4 linked regions of the Homo sapiens genome follow. The protein of the gene in region 2 purifies or fractionates together with the protein of the main gene of each other region. This does not show direct contact. Each region holds a gene or a part of one and is shown on either strand. Other genes may lie near its edges.

Region 1 (3,500 bases), on a different chromosome or scaffold from region 2:
AAAGAGTATAACCACTTTGGGAAAACAGTCTGACAGAAAAGCAAACACATACCTAGCAAATACTAGTGGCATATGCCTCGTAATCCCGGCTTCTTGGGAGGCTGAGGCAGGAAGACTGCTTGAGCCCAGGAGTCTGAGGCCAGCCTGGGTGACAGAGCAAGACTCAAAGTCTCATCTCTAAATTTTTTTTTTTTCTTCCCAGAGATAAGGTCTCCCTCTCTCACCCAGGCTGGAGTGCAGTGGCCTGATCATAGCTCCATGTGACTTCAAACTCCTGGGTTCAAGCAATCCTCCTGCCTCAGCCTCCCTAGTAGCCAGGACTACAGGCATGTGCCACCACACCCAACTAGTTAAAACTTTTTATTTTGTTGAGACAGAGTCTTGCTATGTTGCTCAGGCCAAACTTTTTTTTTCAAAAGCTAATATATATCTGTTATATGGACTAGCCAATCCACTCTTCAGTACTTACCCAACAGAAATGAAACATTTGTCCACATAAAGACTTTTTTTTTTTTTGAGACAGAGTCTCGCTCTGTCACCCAGGCTGGAGTGCAGTGGCACAATCTTGGCTCACGGCAACCTCCACCTCCTGGGTTCAAGTGATTCTCCTACCTTAGCCTCCCAAGTAGCTGGGACCACAGGTGCACACCACTACACCCAGCTAATTTTTGTATTTTTAGTAGAGATGGGGTTTCGCCATGTTGGTCAGGCTGGTGTTGAATTCCTGACCTCAGGTGATCAGCCTGCCTCAGCCTCCCAAAGTGCTGGGATTAGAGGCTTGAGCCACCACGCCCAGTCACGCCCACATAAAGACTTAAAGATGAATGTTCATAGCAGCTTTATTCAGAATAGCCCTAAATTAGAAACAACTCAAATGCTCATCATTTGGTGAACGGATAAACAAACTATGGTACATTTCTACAATGGAGTAACACTCAGCAATAAGGACAAACTGCTGATATATGCAACAGTATGGATGCATCTCAAAAGCATTATGCTAAGTGAACGAAGATTAAAACAAACTACATACCAGAAATGTTTAAAAATTTTTGTTTAAAAGATGGCATCTCACTCTGTTGCTCAGGCTGGAGTGCAGTGGTGTGATCATAGCTCACTACAGCCTTGAACTTCTGGGCTCAAACAATATTCCTGTCTCAGCCTCCTGACTAGCTGGGACTACAGGTATACACTATGATACCCAGCTAATTGAAAAAAAAAAATTCTTTTTTAAGAGATAGGATCTTGCTCTGTTGTCCAGGCTGGTCTTGAATTCCAGGCCTCAAGCAATTCTCCCACCTCAGCCTCCCAAAATGCTATGATTACAGGTGTGAGCCACCATGCACGGCTATTTTTGGATTGTGGCAGTGTTTACACAGCTATATACATTTTCAAAACTCAAATTATACATTAAAAGTTGGTCAATTTCACCAGACACAGTGGCTCACACCTGTAAATCTCGGCACTTTGGGTGGCTGAGGGAGGAGGATTACTTGAGCCCGGAGTTTGAGACTAGCCTGGAAAACAGAGTGAGATCTCGTTTCTACAAAAAATAAAAAATTAGCTGGTGTAGCAGCGTATGCCTGTGGTCTCAGCTACTCGGGGGGCACAAGTGGGAAGATCATTTGAGCCCAAAAAGTTGAGGTTGCAACAAGCTATATTCACACCACCATATTCCAGTCTGAGCAACAGAGTGAGACCCCAACATGTGTGCGCGCGCACACACACACACACACACACACACAAAATTAATACATTTACTATTATGTAAGTAATATCTCAATAATGCTGATTTTCAATAAATATAAGAGGGTAATGAACACACAAGTCAGAATAGTGGCTTCTTTGGATAAAGGGAGGCAAAGAAACTGAATGGGAGGAAGTAGCCCATCAGTAGATATCAATTATTGTTAATATTCTCAGGTTGGTTGTTTCATTTATTATATTACTAAAACAGACACAAGAAACTGAAGGAAGGTTATGCATGGATAATGATACAGGTAATTTAAGAACCAAAAATAATGACTTGACTGAATTCTGTACTCCTAATGTTCTAATTATAAAGCAAAATAAAAATCAGGGTGATGTTGAAAATGATTTAGTATTAGCTATTTTATAAAACTTCCTTCCTTAGAATAATGACTCATTTCTTAAGAGTTTGAGCTTCTCTCTGTGCTTCCTGTGATATTCAAGAGGTTAACTGTTTTTTCTTTTGAGATGGGAGTCTGGCTCTGTTGCCCAGGCTGGAGCACAATGGCATGATCTTGGCTCACTGCAACCTCAGCCCCGCCAGGTTCAAGCGATCCTCCTGCCTCAGCCTCCCAAGTAGCTGGAACTACAGGTTTGCACCACCACACCCGGCTAATCATTTTTAGTGGAGACAGGGTTTCGCCATGTTGGCAAGGCTGGTCTCAAACTCCTGACCTCAAGTGATCTTCCCGCCTCAGCCTCCCAAAGTGCTGGGATTACAGGTGTGAGCCACCGTGCCTGGCCTAAGAGGTTAACTCTTTAAGAAAATAAGTAACTTTATAAGGTCTGACTCTGAGATGTGCTAACACTTACCCAGGGGTTCCACCAGTTGGTCAACCAGTCCCATTTTCTTTGCCCTGTCTGCACGAATGCTTCTACCAGTCAGCATCATGTCCAAAGCAGCAGGCACACCCACCTAACAGGCAAGCAAGGATGAGAATATAGGGGGAAAAAAATCAGGGTGATAATTATATAGTTTACAAATCATCAAATGAACAAATATTAAAATGAGAAAAGTCAAGCCATATGTTTATGCTATTTGTCAACAGCATAGATAAGTTATATTTAATATACTGATATACACTTGGGTAACTTTGGGGATTAGATACCTCTAGCTGAAGCAAAAATGTCTTTATCTCTTAATTCAATATATAGGATTCTTATACTAATAAGGTAAAGAATTTCATGTTTCCTAAAATTGTACATTTCTGTTATTCTGAGGGGTTTTTTTCTATCATATATATAATATGTAAAATTCTGGCCAGGCACGGTGGCTCACACCTGTAATTCCAGCACTTTGGGAGGCCAAGGCAGGCGGGTCACCTGAGGTTAGGAGTTTGAGACCAGCCTGGCCCGACATGGTGAAACCCTGTCTTTACTAAAAATACAAAAAATTAGCTGGGCATGGTGGGGCACACCTGTCATTCCAGCTACTTGGGAGGCTGAGGCACAAGAATTGCTTGAATCCGGAGGCAGAGGTTGCAGTGAGCCGAGATCATGCCACTGTACTCCAGCCTGAACAACAAAAGTGACTCTGTCCCAAAAATAAAATAAAATAAAATTCTCATATTGAAACTAGAGAAGACTGTGAGAAACCTGATAGTTTTGACAAAGTCTTTAAAAAGAATTTTAAGCTTAACAAAAATAGAACTCAGCTAGGGCTGCTTATATGGCATACTAGAAGAAAGGCTTCTAGCAACATTCAAATACCAGCTATAGTTTAAGAAAAAAAAAAGAAGAAAGAAAGAAACTCA
Region 2 (3,500 bases):
CCTTGCCTCTCCTCTGAGAACTGATGTGATCTCTAGGATTATCTGGCCCCAAAAATGTCTTTTTACAACCATGCAAGCAATCCTACCCCTCTTCTGCACTGGCTGGAGGAAAGATGGACATTGAAAGGAAATGGTCAGTTAAAACATAGAGAAATCACTATCCTGGAAGTGGGCATGTGTTTCACTGACATAACTACTTAGAGAATGAAAATGGAGTTGAATAGAGTCCTACTTTTTCTTAAAACACAAAGTCATTAAATCTGGAAGGCACAAAGAAATGAAGGGAAAATCAGGTTGAGAGACCTCCACAAGAAATACAGACAATGAAGACAGTTTCACACTCTGGGCTGAAGTAAGCCACATAGCACCATTCCACCACCAAAGCTCTGCATCTTGGCCAATAGCGAGTAAGAGATGAAGCAGGAATACAAGTCAATAAAGTGGCTGAGCATCGTTATTCTTACGCGTTGTCATTGAAAGAGGTCCTGTCCTGTCCAAATCTTCCACCAAACCTGTGTTTGGATTTGCAGTAGGCTGAAGCGTTATACTATGACTGGAGTCCATATCTGAAGGAATCAATATTAGTGTTATTGCTTGATTTCCCAAACCACTACCTGAAGGTGGCTTATGGTCTACAGCTGATTTTTTTAAATATTCACATCTGGCCAAGAGGAAAGAAAGCACATACTGACTATATCTCCCGAACTGAGATAGATTATTGTTTCATCAAAGAGCACCACAACAAGTAACTGGCTTTCCTTGAAGGGCCGAGTTATATGAAAGCTATGCTGTGTGTTTGTTTTTGCTGAGTCTGGAAGGACTCCACATGAGTGCATGATGGAACACCCAAATCTTGCAGAGAGACAGAAACATTGCCTTTTTTATAGAAACATGCAATCTGACACATGGAGAAAAGACAAAGTGTGCTGGCTCAGGCACCATTTTATCCCCTCCCCCTTACCAACCAAAGGGACTTTTAAAAATAGCCCTCTTCCCCCCTTTAGTCTTTTTTTCTTCACAAAGTGAATATGCAAATAAACAGAATCGTCATCCAAGACCACCTAGGTGGAGTTACAGAAAGTATACAGGGGCAAGAAATAAGAAGCAGTGGACGTCATTGAATTATTCTTCCCAAAAACCCAAGTATAAGCGGTCTTTAAAATTTAACATGTACAATGTTGAGTAGTGCAGAAATTTCACTGAAATACTTGTAAATGTTGTTTTTAACAGTTATCACAGATCTACTCTGCTGAAATAAGAAGTCTTGAGTGAAACAGAGGCCAAACAATTCATAAACCCCATCGATATTTCTGGCTGTCAATTCAGTCAAAGTCTATCCACATCACTGCCTCTGGGGGAGATTTAATCAGTCCCAGTGAAGCACCAGAATACTGGGTACCCAGGTCTGCACTGCAGCCTTTCAACACTAAATATTCAAGATTCAACACTAAATATTCAACACTAAAATATTAAAGATCTTTGTAGGACAAAAATGTGGTGACCCTGTTATCCCAGATTTCAAACAAGAGCAAGTGCTAACCTGAATCAAAACCACAAATGGACATTCTCCCAGAAAAAGTCCCACTTGATGATGGGCTCTAGACTCTTGTTCATCTTCCCTCTTATAAGTAGAGTCCTTCAAGAGTCATCATACCATTGTGTAGTTGAAGCCAATTGTATTGTCCTTGACATGTTCATTAATTTAATGGAATCTCTTTCTCTTCATCAGTACATAGAATTAATATTGATTCTGAAGATCTTTGCCTGGCTTGGTTTTCCCCCATGGGTGTCCTCAGAGCTCCAGCTGCCATGTGCAAACTCATGTGTGCTGGGTCTGCCTGTGGTACTTCAGTCACTCAACATAATGGCCCCTGCCTAGCCATTCAAACACATCTTCCCTTGTGAAAAATGGATCCACTCACTGACATATTCATTCCTTGGCTTTTCTTCCTTCACGTTTCTCCTTACAGGAGTCTCCTTCTTAGGAAAACTGCCCCCCCCACCAACCCCCACCACCCACTTCCTTTCTCTGACTATCCAGGGTTTTTTTATTTTTCATAAACCAAGTCCAATTCACCTTTCTGTGATGCTGTGGTGGGCAGGGAGGGGTTCTCAGAATTTCTTTAGCGTTTATTGTTGGCAACATTCATTTCATATCTATTACTTACTGCCTCACACAGATATATTTTGACAATAAGTTTTTTCTTTTGCCAACCCTCCTGCTAAATTCCTTACTTTCAGCTCAGAACTTCATATTCAGGTGAATATGAGTATCACTCCTACCAAGAAAACTAATTTTTGAAGAACCTCAGGTCCTTCAGGAAAGTAGTTTGGTCTAAAACCAAGGGCATATTTCTAGAAAAATAGTCAGCAGTCACTCAGTGGATTTCAAAAAACATAATATATAAAAATCTCAGAGGCTATTACCCATCCTTCTTCCTGCTTGATGACCTCGTCCCATGGGGTGTGAGATTGGGTTGAAGAAATCAGTCCAGGAACTGTCCTCTGGGCTTGGTGTTGTCCTTCCTTGCATTGGATGGCTGGTATGAGCTGAGGCTGCTGTGACCATGCAGTTTGAGCAATTGTCAAAGTGTTAATGGACGCTTGGTCAGGGATACACCGATTTTATTTTTAAAAAAGACTTTATTCTCTAGACAAGACAATGAAACCATCTTCCTTGTATAGAGGGCAAGGAAGTTGCATAAACGCAGAATGTTTCAGCAGCTTTGGGTTCACTCATGCTCATTTTCTTCTTAGCAATCAGCATGTGAACTGGAGGACACAAAAGCATTAACAACTCCCGCAGTGCAGAAAGGATGAGTTACCGACATCAAAGGAAGATGAAGGAGAAGTACTTCTTGACCCATGCCATGCTGCCACAGTCCCCTAAAGGCAGAAGTATAAAAGCCCGAGTGCATGATGTTATTCTGAGACAACCATATTCCAGCCAAATGCACATTAGGCTGGAAGTGATCTCAGGAAAGGAATCAGGTAACAGCTTTCCATGTGATCAATATGAAAGTCAATGCCATTTATCTCAAAAGCATGAATGGAATCCGTTAGAAGCATTACCTTCTAACAATGGGATTTATGGCATAAATGACATATAAGAAAGCAGCACATGCCTTGCTTCATTCTGAGCCAATGAAGAAGTATAGGTAGAAAAGATTACAATAGCATCCTCTTAGCAACAACTACACCACATAGACAATCACAGAATCCATTGCTCTGCCAGGAATTCATTTAGAACTTGCCATGCCCCAGAAGGACATGATGCATTATCTTCTATGTTGCAAATAGAAATATGGGAATATTTCTCACTGATACCAAGTGAGAATATGGAATTCACATTCTTTATAAGGCAGGACACATTTTAATACTTATGTCACACAGACAAAAGAATCCTGCATGGGAGCTTGCAAAGCCAAGTTATCTGGTATCACTTAGAGATGATGATAAGACTGGATTCCAATTTCCACAATCTCACAATTCAAGAATAG
Region 3 (2,715 bases), on a different chromosome or scaffold from region 2:
GGAATCGGAATGCACAGGCTTGTTCCAACCTCTTGCAATAGAATCTGCCCGAGAGTTTGCAGATGTCTGTGCCACACCTTCTGCCTATTGAATCAGAATCTCTGAGAGTATGGCCTGGAGAGGGCCATCTAAACAAGACCCCCCCAGAAGACCCTGGTCTCAGGTTTGTCTGTAGGTGCATATTTCCCATCTACCAGGCCATCCCCTCAGAGGCTGGAAGAGGGGAGGAAGTACAAGGTGGGAAACAGACACCAGCCCCCAAGCTGGTGTGACAGGGATGTGTCACAGACCCGGGGCTAGGTGTTCCCCTCACAGGGAACAGGCTGGATGAGGGTTGGATGGGCATCTCCTCTCTCCCACAGCTTCTTTTGTCAGTTTCCACATGCACAACATACACATCACCCAAGCCTAGTCCCTCCCCTCAGAATGCACGGTGCCTCCATCCACAGCCACCTCCCACCACGGCGTTCCCTCTCCCAACAGAAACCCCACCTGCCTCATTACTTAAATAATCTTTATTTCTCATGCACTAGGAAAGATGGTTCGTATGAAACACTGCAGTTCACAGCAAAGGCCTCAGTCCAGAACACAACATAGGGGCCAGCTGGGATCACAATCTGGTCAAAGCTCTGGGAGCCACACTGGGAACACCACTCCCGGGGTTGAGTGGCAGATCCAGGACTTTGCAGCAACTGTGGCCCCAGACATAACACAAGGCAGCTGCCCTCTCCCACAGAGGCACAGGAAGCTGACACCCAAGGAGCACGTGGGCTGGGGACAGGACGGAGAAGGCTGCTGGGCAGTGACTTGGCGGAGATGTGGTCCAGCACCTCTGCCGCCTGCGTCTACCCACTCAGGCCAGGAAGCCCAGGCCTGTGACTGAGCTCTAGGCCCAGCTCTACCCAGTGCAGAGCTGCTGGAGTTCCACAGACCCTCAGCAGCCCCGTGCCCACAGCAGAGGTGTAGAGGTCCCCCGCCTGCCCCTCGGCTACATGAACAAGACAGGGGCCTAAACTTCGGCCCTGGCCAAGGCTTAGATTTGCCCAGGAAGGACCGGAAAGGCTAGAGGGGCCAGCCCCCCACAACCATCCCAAGCCCCTGTGGACACTGGAGAAGCCCATAGGACAGTCAGGCTTCTGAGGATCCCAGGACAGGGCCACCAGCAGGGGAGGCCCTCAATACCTGGGCCATCAGGCTCAATACCTGAGCCCAAACAACAATGAGCAGATTCCCAGGCTTTGCTTTCACTGGGTGGCCCAGGGACAGTGACATGGTAGGAGACATGCAAGACAGAGACAGAGAAGAATGGAGACATGCAGAGACCACACAGCATGGGCGGGGTCTGAGGACAAAACGTGGTAAAAGTGCTGCGATGTGGTGGGCACTTCATGGACCAGGCTCATTGAGGCCCTGGGCTCATGGTGATACCCGCCTCCTCTGGAATGGTCTCCAGCATCTCACTCTGGACTGCCTGCGTGATGAGCGCCAGCTCCTGGCACAGGGTCTCGTAGCGGTAGCCCACGCGGATGTCTGGCACATTGGTCCGGCGGATGTCATTCCCCTCAGGGCCTTCCTTGGTATAGTTGGGTCCCAGCCAGTGGCTCTTTACCTGCAAGGAGCGGGGGTAATGGGCAGGGCTGCAGCCAGTGCTGAGGGGTCATGCCCCACCCCAAGCCATCCCAGGGACAGGTCAGGACCCCAAATGCAGAGGAGGGGAGGAGTGATGCCATGCCAAGGTCCAGGCAGGCGCTGTAGTACCTTGTGCGAGAAGCCGCTCATGAGCACGCTGTTGCGGGCCAGCTCACACATATCGCAGGAGCTGAGCTTCCACACCTGGGTGGCGATGCTGTACTCCTCCATCAGCGGCTCCTGCACGGGCCAGGTTCCCTCAGACGAGTGCGCCCTGGCCAGCTGCCCCTGCCTCCCTTCCCCAGCCTCCTCACTCACTCTCCCCACCCCCGCCCCCCCATCCCCCCAACCCCCCAACCCCTCAACTCCATAAGACTTGTCAATTGGCCAGCTATGCTCTACCAGCAGGGGGCAGCACCAACCCGAGAGACCGCCCCCCCCACCGCCCCCCACCCAACCCGGGAGACCCCAGCGTCCTGGGACGCCCGCCCGCCTGGCTGCCTGCTGGGCTCTGACCTTGGTGAAGTGGAACTGCAAGGGATCATCAGTGGACAGGGAGACCATGAGGCCGCGGGACAGGTACTCCGGTAGCGGATTCCGGTGATAGCTGAGGAAGAGGCTGTTGTTGCTGAGCGGAGACATGGCGATGCCGATCTGGGCCAGGTAGTACAGGTACTGCAGGACGGGGGCCTGGGCAGGCAACAGGGAGGGAGGGCCTGTCAGGTGGCCCCGAGGCTGGGCAGGGCACAGTGGTTCTGGGGGTCCAGGCCACAGCAGAGGGCAGGGGGAGGGGAATCCAGGCTTGGCCTGATGTGCAAAGGGTGAATTAGTCAAAATCCAAGTTGGGGCCCCAGGCTGAAGGCTGGGGTGGGGAAGGGTAGTTACATTGGGAAGGCAGAATCCAATCTGAGGGCTGGGTGGGAGGAGGATCGGTTGCTGAAGGGGCCCGAATGGTTCAGAGGAAGGTGAACAATTGGGAGGGAAGGCTAGGGGTGCAGATCCTGACCTTGCGCAGAAGGAGCCCGTGGGAAATGTTCTCAGCCAGCATGAAGGCTGACACCAGGTGGTGGATGGGCCCAGCCTCCC
Region 4 (4,155 bases), on a different chromosome or scaffold from region 2:
TTGGGCTACATAGAAATAGATGAAATTTGTCATTTTTAGATTTGTATTCTTGTCAGTCTATTGCCTGGTACAGGTATCCTTTAAAAAAAGAGTAGTCTCTTTGGGGACTTGGGAAGAAAGGGTGGGAAGTTGGGGAGGGACAGGACTACAAACTGGATTCAGTGTATACTGCTTGGGTGATGGGTGCAACAAAATTTCACAAATCACCACTAAAGAACTTACTCATGTAACCAACTACCACCTGGTCCCTAAAACCCTATAGAAATAAAAAATTTTAAAAAAATTGGTAGTCTCCACAAGTCTGGATGAGTTATTCTACATTTCCCTTTTAATGTCTTGTCCTTAGCTAGTTATAAAGTTAGCAGAGTTCTCAACCTGAGTACTAGTGACATTTGGGGTCAAAAATGTTTTTGTTGAGGGTATTATAATGTGTATTGTAGGATGTTCAGCAGCATCCCCGGCCTCTACCTGCCAGATGCCAGTAGCACCCTTCCAGGTTACAGCAACCAAAAATGTCTCCAGGCATTGTCAAATGTCCCCTGGGAGGCAAAATCGTCCCCATTTGAGAACCACAGAGTTAAAGTAAGATTACAAAAATGAAAACCCAACTCACAGTTAGGAAGAAAAAGTTAACGGTTGTTTTTACAACGGTGGTAATGTGGTATGCAATTCAAAATTATGTCCACTGGCTAACCTCTACATAGTTTTATTCTAAGGCGAATCGGGTATCAAAATCTTCAAAGAAAAAATGATTCAGCAACTAATAGAGTCTGAAAAAAAAAGAGTATTAGGGGAAGCCCCAAATATTAATTTAATTTAAAGGGAAATTCTTCTGTCTTCTGGTCATAATACATGCTTTTTAATAAATAATTTGTGATACTAGAAAGAACAAAACCAATTGGGACACACAGCACCTTGCCCTTGTCAGCTGAGATGGCGTAGCAGACAACTGCAGAACAAACTTCAATCACAAAGATAATTTTTTGAAATAGATGAGTTCAAGTTACCAGAATAGAGAACTAGCACTAACCCATCTAATAGGTTACAAGCATCTTTTCAGTTTTACGGGATTAAGTGATTGATAAAATTTTTAAATTATGGCAAGCCTGAAAAAAATTAAATACTTGCCTCTCTTGCAGGTTGCTATTTTGGAAGCAATAAAGACTCAGCTCATATGAAAGTGTATTGCCCATTCTTCTGCCAATTCACGTTTGGTTGTAGAATTTTCTTCTCTTCCAGCCCCCCTCCACCTCCCCTCATGACATCCCATTAGCATCCCAAGACAAAGGCAGAACTACAGGGGAGTGGCGCTGGGACCCCTGTGGGTCTTTTCTCAGGCAATGAGAGAATCAGATTCTCCACCTGGAACCCATAAAGGAAGGAACGCCATAACACACAGCTTTTAAAACACATGTTTACATACACTTACAGGAGGACAGGTTACAATATATTCTAGTCCTCTTTCTCTCACTTCAAATTCCATCAGTGTTGTAAATCGGCTCATCTTATGCCCCTTTCTTTCTCTTTCCTCTAGACCAGTGGCTCTCAAAGTGTGATGTGATCAGCATCCCCGGGGAACATGTTAGAAATGCAAATCTTCAGCCCCCACTCCAGACTTAGGGAATCCCCTAAAGTCCAAGCACTCCTTATTTAGGCCAGTGTTCTTTCTAGAACCACAAACATTGTTTCTTACAGAAAGCAAAACTGCAATTCTCATTTCATCCTCAAGCCTGCTGCAAGGTAGTAATATATTAGCCCCACGTGAGCGATGAGGAAACCGGCTCTGGGGTTAAGCGTCGGCTCAAGGTCTCAAAGCTAGTCACTGCAGGTGGAAGATTAAAGTGTTTGCACTTCTTTTCACTACTGAAACAAAGCTATGGCACTTTATTAACAACATCTGGATTTTTTGCTGGTTGGCTGGTTGGTTTTTGTTTTTGCTCTTTCAGCTTTCGTCAATTCGGAAAAATATAAAACAGAGTGGGTGAGAGTAGTGTGCCATATGCCTCGGGTCGTCCCGAGTCGGAATTTAAGGGCAGGACTCTAGAAAGGTGTTTTTCCAGTAAAGACCGTTTCGTTCTGCTGCGGTCCTTCCTGTCTTTGTCCCCGGGACAGCACGCAGCAGATAGAAGCGGCCAGAGCTGCATGGCGGGGCCGCGGGCATCCCCGACGCGACAGGTTGTCCGCGGGAAGACAGCCAGTCCGCGAGGCCCCGGCGCGCCGCGGCTCCGGGCCGGGGGTACTGGTTTACAGGGCAAATTGGCACACCCCAAAGCCCAGGGGACACCCGGGCCTACGCCGCAGCCCGGAAAGGAGGGGGTGAGTGGTGAACCCGAAACCGCCGAGGGCCGCGCGGCCAGAAACCACACGGAGCGCTAGGGTCGCAGTGAAGATCCGGGAGGAGGGTGCAGGCTGGAGGGGAGAGAGCGGGCGAGAACCCACGAAATGGAAATGAGGCGGAGAGAGCGGGTCGGCACTCACTGTGAGGGTCGCTCTTCTCCCGGACCCCGTCAACTCGGCCGTCGGGGTGGATGCGCAGGAAGAAGCCCCCGTTTTTGCAGTACAGCCGCTTGGGGTCCTTGAAGTGGCCGGGCGGGAAGGCGCCGCTGCCGCCATCCTCGGGCAAGGCGGGCAGCGTGGTGATGCTCCCGGCTGCCATGGTCCCTGCGGGGCCCGGCCGGGATCCCCGAGCCGCTGGAGCCGCGCGGGGAGCCGCCGTCCCCCGGCCCCGGCCCCGGCCTCCGACCCGCTCCGGGGCACGGCCCCGGCCCCGGCCCCCCAGCCTCCCGCCCGGCAGCGCGCGGCCGCGCCCGCGGTCCCCCAGCCTCGAGCCGCTCGGCCGCTCTTCTGTCCGCCGGCCCCTGGTGCGCGGCGAGCCGGCGGCCCGGGACCTGGGGTTCACGGATGGGTGTCTCCGCGGACGCCGCCTGGGGAGAGCCGCCTCCCAAGCTGCAGCGCCCGGGATCCCGTTGCAACCGCGGGCACCGCGTCCGCTAATCTGGCACCCGCCGGGCCGCGGCGTCACATCTTCTACATCTCCACCCCCCACACCCACCAGCCTCCCGCGCCCCCAGTTCTCCTCCCTCCTGCGCGCCGCCCCCTACTCGCTCGGGTTTTCTGGGGCCGGCCTCTGAGTTCGGCGGTTCGGCCACAACACGCAAGCGCGCGACATCAGTCCGGCGGGGAGCCCGGCCTCAGTCGGGGGCGGGGGAGAGGCGAGGGGCGGGGGGCGCGCGTCGGAGGCCGCGGCAGGGCTTTGGCATTCCCTGGGCTCCACCGCCCCTTATCCCCCAAAAGTCACCCCCGCCCAACCCCCGCACCACCCAAACCACGTTTAGGCTTTCTCCACACTGCGGGGCTTTTGCTGCGCAACCAGCCGTGACTCAACTTTTAAAAGTTTAAACTCAACTTTCTCCCCCATTTTTTCCCCGCTAGCGTTTCAAAACGGAGAAGCCGTTTCCACCCCAAAGTAGAGAAGTTGCAATCCAAGGAAGAGTCTGTGTCAGAGCAGGCTTTGAAAATCTCTAAATCACCAAAAGACGAGGGGTACAAGTGGGGCATAAACTTTAAAATTAAAGGACAGAGGCTGAAGTCGTCTACCAACAAAAGGAGAGAAAGAGGCCAGAGAAGGGGAGCAGATTGGGTTGCTAAAACGAAAAGGTTTCCTTTACTGACCTATCTTGAATTAGACGACGCAGAAAGATGAGGATGGGGATAAGGATAAATCCTTATCGCGATCGAAGCGCATTAATGTCTTAACTCGGACCTGGCATTTGCCCTAGCTAAATTGTTATGCATTTCTTGGAGAGAGAGTTATTTTCTGTAAATCCCAAATGTAAAATTGAAGTTAATTGCATTTTGGTAATTTTCAGTAGGATATAGCAGGTGCCACAGATGACTAGGAAAATATCTATTCAGAAAACTTGCATGTATTGAGTACCTACTGTGTGCAACACATAATGTTGAGTGTGTGGGAGATGCCAAATCTGATGCCAGCGTCTCACACACTGAGGGAGATAAGATGGGTAGCATGAGTAACACAAATAGCAGTAGAAAGTAGGCCATAGAAGAGTAAGACTAAGTGCTGTGACATTTCAGACATCGGATAACTCAGCGTGGGGAGGCAGGAGATTTGGGGAAGCTTCTAGAAGGAGTTGC

Evidence for each region. Proteins that work in one complex are often made in the same cells at the same time.
Region 1: the proteins of CD44 (region 2) and HADHA purify together in Homo sapiens (co-immunoprecipitation; 3 studies listed by BioGRID and IntAct, with this or other methods). This does not show direct contact.
Region 3: the proteins of CD44 (region 2) and AMPD2 purify together in Homo sapiens (co-immunoprecipitation; 3 studies listed by BioGRID and IntAct, with this or other methods). This does not show direct contact.
Region 4: the proteins of CD44 (region 2) and FGF2 purify together in Homo sapiens (co-immunoprecipitation; 3 studies listed by BioGRID and IntAct, with this or other methods). This does not show direct contact.

Annotation. Positions count from the first base shown.
Region 1 is NC_000002.12:26,227,633-26,231,132, forward strand, and holds part of HADHA (trifunctional enzyme subunit alpha, mitochondrial precursor), read right to left. Parts: intron 2,663-3,500; coding exon 2,560-2,662; intron 1-2,559. UniProt on the Homo sapiens protein: Mitochondrial trifunctional enzyme catalyzes the last three of the four reactions of the mitochondrial beta-oxidation pathway.
Region 2 is NC_000011.10:35,205,171-35,208,670, reverse strand, and holds part of CD44 (CD44 antigen isoform 1 precursor), read right to left. Parts: intron 2,887-3,500; coding exon of another isoform or gene 2,831-2,886; exon of another isoform or gene 2,624-2,830; intron 2,560-2,623; coding exon 2,428-2,559; intron 567-2,427; coding exon 465-566; intron 1-464. UniProt on the Homo sapiens protein: Cell-surface receptor that plays a role in cell-cell interactions, cell adhesion and migration, helping them to sense and respond to changes in the tissue microenvironment.
Region 3 is NC_000001.11:109,629,837-109,632,551, reverse strand, and holds the end of AMPD2 (AMP deaminase 2), read right to left. Parts: coding exon 2,636-2,715; intron 2,320-2,635; coding exon 2,146-2,319; intron 1,870-2,145; coding exon 1,759-1,869; intron 1,610-1,758; coding exon 1,400-1,609; 3' UTR 501-1,399; downstream 1-500. UniProt on the Homo sapiens protein: AMP deaminase plays a critical role in energy metabolism. Catalyzes the deamination of AMP to IMP and plays an important role in the purine nucleotide cycle.
Region 4 is NC_000004.12:122,825,676-122,829,830, reverse strand, and holds the start of FGF2 (fibroblast growth factor 2 isoform 18 kDa), read right to left. Parts: upstream 2,657-4,155; coding exon 2,479-2,656; intron 1-2,478. UniProt on the Homo sapiens protein: Acts as a ligand for FGFR1, FGFR2, FGFR3 and FGFR4. Also acts as an integrin ligand which is required for FGF2 signaling. Binds to integrin ITGAV:ITGB3.